Homo sapiens: one gene and its partner. The protein of the gene in region 2 interacts with the protein of the main gene of each other region in a pairwise test. Each region holds a gene or a part of one and is shown on either strand. Other genes may lie near its edges.

Region 1 (4,553 bases), on a different chromosome or scaffold from region 2:
GGCATCTGCTTCTGGTGAGGGCCTTAGGAAGCTTCCACTCATGACAGAAGGCGAAGGGGAGCCAAGGTGTTACATGGTGAGAGTGGGAGCAAGAGACAGCAGGGGAAGGTCCCAGACTCTTTTAAACAACCAGATCTCAGGTGAACTTAGAGATAGAGAACCCACTCATTACCATGAGGATGGCACTAAGCCATTCAGAGGGATCTGCTCTCATGATCCAAACCCCTTCCACCAGGCCCACCTCCAACACTGGGGATCACATTTCAACATGAGATTTGGAGGGGACAAATATGCAAACTGTATTAGTGCATAATGGGAGTTTTTACTATGGTTTAGAATATAAATAAGACCTCATCATCTAGTAAAACCTGATTCTCATGGTCATCTATTTTATAGGAAAGTTTCTATTTTCAGGATGCTCTTATTCCTCATGCAAATACATGGAAAAACAGAAGCCAACATGCTGCCCAATTATCGCACAGTGAAGACAAGTGATCGGGCACATGGGTTTCTCTTAGTGTCTCAGCATTTGTTTAGACACAAAGGGAGAACAAAAATTTACAGGACATTGAAGAAAAATTCTCAAACAGGAAGGGGACAGCAAGAAAGGGAGAGAGGGAGAGACAGAGAGAAAGAGAGAAAAAAGAAAGGGAAAGTGGAAGAGAAAAAGAAAGAAGAGGAGGAAAGCAGCAAATAACCACATTTTTTCTTAAGAAAAGAAATAAGGCTGGGCACGGTGGCTCATGCCTGTAATACTAGCACTTTGGGAGGCCAGGGAGGGTGAATCACTTGAGATCAGGAGTTCAAAACCAGCCTGGCCAACATGGTGAAACCCCATCTCTACTAAAAATATAAAACAATTAGAAAAAAATTACAAAAAAAAAGAAAATCTATAAATGTTAAAATTAATATGCTCGGATAAAAGATATTGCACTCATACATCAAGAAAGTCTTGAAAAGAAAGGAAAATCTGATAAGACAAATGTTCTTTGAAATCAGTAGCTAAAAAGAAACCCTTAGGCAATAATAGAAGAGTTGGAAGACAAAGCTATTCCAGGAAGTAGAAAAAGTATACAAAAGTGGACAAAAAGAGTGAAAAGGTCGGAAAAAAATAAGATCTCTGCTCAGGGATGTCCAGCACTAGCAATATTTATGTGACTAAAAATATCTCTGACTAAAAAATGTTTCAGAGAGTATCATGAAAGTATTTATTAAAAAAAATTCAAGATTTGAGAGATGAGGCACAGGGGTTTCCAGAATGAAGACATTCCACGATGAGCACAATAAATGAACAAAAGGATCGTTGTTGCAAAAATATCAGAATACCAGGAATATATAGAAATTTCCAGAAGCTTCTAAAGGGAAGTAGAATTTCCATCAAAGGAATGGTAATTAGAATTCTACTGGTCTTTAGAAAAGCAACACTGCACATTGATAAGTTATAGGAGGTAAAATCGAGGAAGGATGTGGCTTTGAGTTTAAAATCATCTACCAAGCTGAGAGGTCAATATGTAAAATCGACTAATTAGTATTTTTGTAAGTTTAGTATTAAACAATAGGAAAATGTATTAGAAGAGCCAGGTACAAGTTTTGATAAGTGAGCTTGTTGATGCATAATTTTTCTATTAGAATCAAATCATTTTAAGAAGTTAAAATAAAATGTAACTAAAATTACATTTATGTCCCCAGCCAAGAAATACACTTTTTTTGTTTTTGAGACAGAGTCTTGCTCTGTTGCCCAAGCTGGAGTACAGCGGTGCAATCTCAGATTGCTGCAACCTCTGCCTCCCAGGTTCAAGCAATTCTTGTGTCTCAGCCTCCCAAGTAGCTGGAACCACAGGCACATGCCACCATGCCTGGCTAATTTTTGTATTTTTAGTAGTGACAGGGTTTTGCCATGTTGTCCAGGCTGGTCTTGAACTCCTGGCCTCAAGAGATCCGCCTGCCTTGGCATCTGAAAGTGTTGGAATTACAGGTGTGAGCCACCATGCCCAGCCAGTAATATACTTCTAAACTACGTTTTACAAGTACAATTATAAAAGGAAAATGTTGATAAATATCACAATGACAACTTTTAGAATATTTGTACAACGGTACTCATAAGTAAATTGAAAAACACAAGCCAGGCTGGGAGAATATATTTGCAACACATATAAGAGATAAATTATTAGTGTCTAGAAGACAACAAAAATATTCTACTAAGCCTCAAGAAAAAAAACATACTAAAAACTGGGAAATGATATAAATATAAAAATTAGCATAGGGGAAAAACAGAATGGCCTTTAAAATAGAGTGAACAGATTCAATCACACGGGTTAGTAAAGAAATGGGAATTAAAGATCACATACTATTTTATACCCATCAATGGACTGACATTTAAAAAGTATGAAAGTTACCAGGCATTAAAAAGGATGTGAGTTCAAGACGACCTTAGGCAACAGAGTGAGATCCTGTCTCTACAAAAAATTTAAAAATTAGCGGGACATGGTGGCACACACTTATAAGTCCCAGCTACTCCTGAGGGTGAGGTGGGAGGATCACTAGGGCCTAGGAGCTCGAGGCCAGCCTGGGCAACATACCAAGACCCCATCTCTTTAAAAAAGAGATGTGGAGAAACAAATTCCTAAGTTACTAGAATCCCTTGCAAAGTGTTTTTCAAACAATCCTTGTTGGTATAACCCAGTGGTTTCTAAATTTACCCAGTGGTTTCTAAGAAGCCACCACAAGGTCCCACACCTCTCACTTGATTTGTCTGCAACCCAATCACTGAAACCCCAGCCTCTTGCCTTCGCCCAACTTACCAAACATGGTGTCCTCTAGAAATGAGTGGGTTCGATCAGCTGTGTGCTGCAGAGCTCCTGAGCTGAGTCTATGTGACTGCTGGGCTAAAAGACCCGCTTATTTAAGCAGAATTTTAATGTAATCATGTCCCCACCCTGTCCTACCCTAATACCACGCCCTCCAATAATCCATTCAATATCTGTTTATTTAGAACCTATTATATGCCTGATGCTGTGTAGGGCACTGGGAATAAAACTATGTTTAAAAAAAAAAAAAAAAAAAAAGACTGATCCTTGACTCCAGAGAGTGGAAGAAAACAAAAGAAAGTGGAGCGAACTGAAAATGGATAAAATGTTCAAAAATGTCACTTGGGATCAATGAGTAAATAAACAAGGCGCTGAGAGAAAAATAAGTTGGTAAGATGATTCAAACTGGAAGGTGAAGGAGGTGCCCTGTGCGTGGACGGCTTCCAGTGAGACCCGGAGTGCAGCAGGAGGCATCCTGCTAGGAGTTTGGGATGATGGGAGTTAAGCCCTTCACCCGCCCATCTCGGTTCAACCTCTTCCAGTTGAGACAGCAATGGATGACAGTGAAGAACTTGGCAGAGCCTAAACCATAGGGGATCTTGTATCTTCTCTTGAGTATGGATTTGGGGGCAGCTGGGGAGCCCATAACGAGTTTTCAGCAAGGAAACTTAAAATATAAATTGCATTAAAAGAATCATGCTTCTTTCTTTCCTCTGAGCATCCCTCTCTCTGTCCCTCTGTTACTCATTTACTCCACCTTTCAGGCACCTTATTAACTCATTTATTTATTCCTCCCCCTAACGTTCTTCTCCATGATGGGTCTTATTTGTGGGGTGAGTGTAATTCACTAGACAGATCTAGTCTCTATCCATGAGATATGGCCTCCCCACACTCAATGTGGACCCAAGCTTTCTGAAGCAGAGATGGGACTCTGGTCTTGGCCCATCTTATACTACCCCTCAACTCTGTCCTCTCCCGCAACCTCCACACCCCCACCAGGTTGGTTTGGAAAAGTCTTGGACTAGCGAAAGAACTCTGTCTCTGGGAACATTGCAGGTAGCCTGAAGGCCAAATGATTGAAGGACCCATCTGTATCTTTTTACGTTTTGTTTTAGGGTCTCACTCTGTTGCCCAGACTAGAGTGCAGTGGTGCCATCATAGCTCACTGCAGCCTTCAACTCCTGGGCTCAAGAGATCGTCCAGCCTTGGCCTGCCAAAGTGCTAGTGAGCCATTGCACCTGGCCCCATCTATGTCTTTTACAGGAATAAAATTCAGGAACACTTCTAACACAGTCAAGGGTAGAAACTCCCAAATCCTATCGGAAAGGATAAAGTGGGCCTCAAATTTTCCGTTTAAATGTTAGAATCAGTCCCTGGAGTTGCCCTATGACACTAATGAGGATGGAAAGAGAGTGATATATTCAAAGGGTATGACCTCCCCAATAGCAGGGAATTTTGCAGAACTTAACGTTAAAACACCCCTGACACTTCTTCATTTGTTTGCTTAATTATTTGAATGCCTGCTCTGCTAAGATTTGTTCCAGTGACTAGGAAATTGGGATTTACAAAAATAGAACTCACTGCCGCCTTCCCAAGTGCTGGCATTCTAGGGAGGGAAGCAGGAAATAAAAAAGGAAACAAGACAATACGCAGTTCTGATTATGATACTACTGGTGTTATGAATGCCACCAACAGCACTGATTCAGAGGATGTGCAGTAGTTTTAAGGTAAGGTAAGATGTCTCTG
Region 2 (3,817 bases):
ATTTTCAGAATGGTAAATGAGCGTTGGCTTAAACTTGAAATCATCAGCTATATTAGTCCCCAGCAACAAAGTCAGCCTGACTTTTGAGTCAGAATCAGCTTTGAAGCCAGGCGTTGACCTCTCTAGCTGTGCAAGTCCTAGAGGGCATCTTTGTCCTATAGAAGTCTGTTTTCATCTATACTGAAAATCCATTGTTAAATGTGGCCACCTTCATGAATTATCCTAGCTAGAGCAGCTTCTAGATAACTTGCTGTACCTTCCTGTTACACCTTGCACTTTTATGTTATGGAGATGGTTTATTTTTTAAACCTCATGAACTGACCTCTATTAGCTTCAACCTGTTCTTTTTTTATTTTATTTTATTTTTGTATTGTTATACTTTAAGTTTTAGGGTACATGTGCACAACATGCAGGTTTGTTACATACGTATACATGTGCCATGTTGGTGTGCTGCACCCATTAACTCGTCATTTAACATTAGGTATATCTCCTAATGCTATCCGTCCCCCCTCCTCCCACCCCACCACAGTCCCCAGAGTGTGATGTTCCCCTTCCTGTGTCCATGTGTTCTCATTGTTCAATTCCCACCTATGAGTGAGAACATGCGGTGTTTGGTTTTCTGTCCTTGCGATAGTTTGCTGAGAATGATGGTTTCCAGCTTCATCCATGTCCCTACAAAGGACATGAACTCATCATTTTTTATGGCTGCATAGTATTCCATGGTGTATATGTGCCACATTTTCTTAATCCAGTCTATCATTGTTGGACATTTGGGTTGGTTCCAAGTCTTTGCTATTGTGAATAATGCCACAATAAATATATGTGTGCATGTGTCTTTATAGCAGCATGATTTATAATCCTTTGGGCATATACCCAGTAATGGGATGGCTGGGTCAAATGGTATTTCTACTTCTAGATCCTTGAGGAATCGCCACACTGACTTCCACAATGGTTGAACTAGTTTACAGTCCCACCAACAGTGTAAAAGTGTTCCTGTTTCTCCACATCCTCTCCAGCACCTGTTGTTTCCTGACTTTTTACTGATTGCCATTCTAACTGGTATGAGGTGGTATCTCATTGTGGTTTTGATTTGCATTTCTCTGATGGCCAGTGATGATGAGCATTTTTTCATGTGTTTTTTGGCTGCATAAATATCTTCTTTTGAGAAGTGTCTGTTCATATCCTTCGCCCACTTTTTGATAGGGTTGTTTTTTTCTTGTAAATTTGTTTTGAGTTCATTGCAGATTCTGGATATTAGCCCTTTGTCAGATGAGTAGGTTGCAAAAATTTTCTCCCATTCTGTAGGTTGCCTGTTCACTCTGACGGTGGTTTCTTTTGCTGTGCAGAAGCTCTTTAGTTTAATTAGATCCCGTTTGTCAATTTTGGCTTTTGTTGCCATTGCTTTTGGTGTTTTAGACATGAAGTCCTTGCCCCATGCCTATGTCCTGAATGGTATTGCCTAGGTTTTCTTCTAGGGTTTTTATGGTTTTAGGTCTAACATGTAAGTCTTTAATCCATCTTGAATTAATTTTTGTATAAGGTGTAAGGAAGGGATCCAGTTTCAGCTTTCTACATATGGCTAGCCAGTTTTCCCAGCACCATTTATTAAATAGGGAATCCTTTCCCCATTTCTTCTTTTTGTCAGGTTTGTCAAAGATCAGATAGTTGTAGATACGCGGCATTATTTCTGAGGGCTCTGTTCTGTTCCATCGGTCTATATCTCTGTTTTGGTACCAGTACCATGCTGTTTTGGTTACTGTAGCCCTGTAGTATAGTTTGAAGTCAGGTAGCGTGATGCCTCCAGCTTTGTTCTTTTGGCTTAGGATTGACTTGGCGATGCGGGCTCTTTTTTGGTTCCATATGAACTTTTAAGTAGTTTTTTCCAATTCTGTGAAGAAAGTCATTGGTAGCTTGATGGGGATGGCATTAAATCTATAAATTACCTTGGGTAGTATGGCCATTTGCACAATATTGATTCTTCCTACCCATGAGCATGGAATGTTCTTCCATTTGTTTGTATCCTCTTTTATTTCATTGAGCAGTGGTTTGTAGTTCTCCTTGAAGAGGTCCTTCACATCCCTTGTAAGTTGGATTCCTAGGTATTTTATTCTCTTTGAAGCAATTGTGAATGGGAGTTCACTCATGATTTGGCTCTCTGTTTGTCTGTTGTTGGTGTATAAGAATGCTTGTGATTTTTGTACATTGATTTTGTATCCTGAGACTTTGCTGAAGTTGCCTATCAGCTTAAGGAGATTTTGAGCTGAGACGATGGGGTTTTCTAGATTTACAATCATGTCCTCTGCAAACAGGGACAATTTGACTTCCTCTTTTCCTAATTGAATGCCCTTTATTTCCTTCTTCTGCCTGATTGCCCTGGCCAAAGCTTCCAACACTATGTTGAATAGGAGTGGTGAGAGAGGGCATCCCTGTCTTGTGCCAGTTTTCAAAGGGAATGCTTCCAGTTTTTGTCCATTCAGTATGATATTGGCTATGGGTTTGTCATAGATAGCTCTTATTATTTTGAGATACGTCCCGTCAATACCTAATTTATTGAGAGTTTTTAGCATGAAGGTTGTTGAATTTTGTCAAAGGCCTTTTCTGCATCTATTGAGATAATCTTGTGGTTTTTGTCTTTGTTTCTGTTTATATGCTGGATTACGTTTATTGATTTGCATATGTTGAACCAGCCTTGCATCCCAGGGATGAAGCCCACTGGATCATGGTGGATAAGCTTTTTGATGTGCTGCTGGATTCAGTTTGCCAGTATTTTATTGAGGATTTTTGCATCAATGTTCATCAAGGATATTGGTCTAAAATTCTCTTTTTTGGTTGTGTCTCTGCCGGGCTTTGGTATCAGAATGATGCTGGCCTCATAAAATGAGTTAGGGAGGATTCCCTCTTTTTCTATTGATTGGAATAGTTTCAGAAGGAATGGTACCAGCTCCTCCTTGTACCTCTGGTAGAATTCGGCTGTGAATCCATCTGGTCCTGGACTTTTTTTGGTTGGTAAGCTATTAATTATTGCCTCAATTTCAGCACCTGTTATTGGTCTATTCAGAGATTCAACTTCTTTCTGGTTTAGTCTTGGGAGAGTGTATGTGTCGAGGAATTTTTCCATTTCTTCTAGATTTTCTAGTTTATTTGCATAGAGGTGTTTATAGTATTCTCTGATGGTAGTTTGTATTTCTGTGGGATCAGTGGTGATATCCCGTTTGTCATTTTTTATTGGGTCTATGTGATTCTTCTCTCTTTTCTTCTTTATTAGTCTTACTAGCGGTCTATCAATTTTGTTGATCTTTTCAAAAAACCAGCTCCTGGATTCATTGATTTTTTTGAAGGGCTTTTTGTGTCTCTATTTCCTTCAGTTCTGCTCTGATCTTAGTTGTTTCTTGCCTTCTGCTAGCTTTTGAATGTGTTTGCTTTTGCTTCTCTAGTTCTTTTAATTGTGATGTTAGGGTGTCAATTTTAGATCTTCCCTCCTTTCTCTTGTGGGCATTTAGTGCTATAAATTTCCCTCTACACACTGCTTTGAATGTGTCCCAGAGATTCTGGTATGCTGTGTCTTTGTTCTCGTTGGTTTCAAAGAACCTCTTTATTTCTGCCTTCATTTCGTTATGTACCCAGTAGTCATTCAGGAGCAGGTTGTTCAGTTTCCATGTAGTTGAGCGCTTTTGAGTGAGTTTCTTAATCCTGAGTTCTAGTTTGATTGCACTGTGGTCTGAGAGACAGTTTGTTATAATTTCTGTTCTTTTACATTTGCTGAGGAGTGCTTTACTTCCAAGTATGTGGTCAATTTTGGAATAGGTGTGGTGTGGTG

The links.
Region 1: the proteins of FAM24B (region 2) and LEUTX interact in binary tests that used the Homo sapiens proteins (3 or more experiments, as listed by UniProt).

The regions. Positions count from the first base shown.
Region 1 is NC_000019.10:39,777,176-39,781,728, reverse strand, and holds the start of LEUTX (paired-like homeodomain transcription factor LEUTX), read right to left. Parts: upstream 2,876-4,553; 5' UTR 2,809-2,875; coding exon 2,802-2,808; intron 1-2,801.
Region 2 is NC_000010.11:122,869,492-122,873,308, reverse strand, and holds part of FAM24B (protein FAM24B precursor), read left to right. Parts: intron 1-3,817.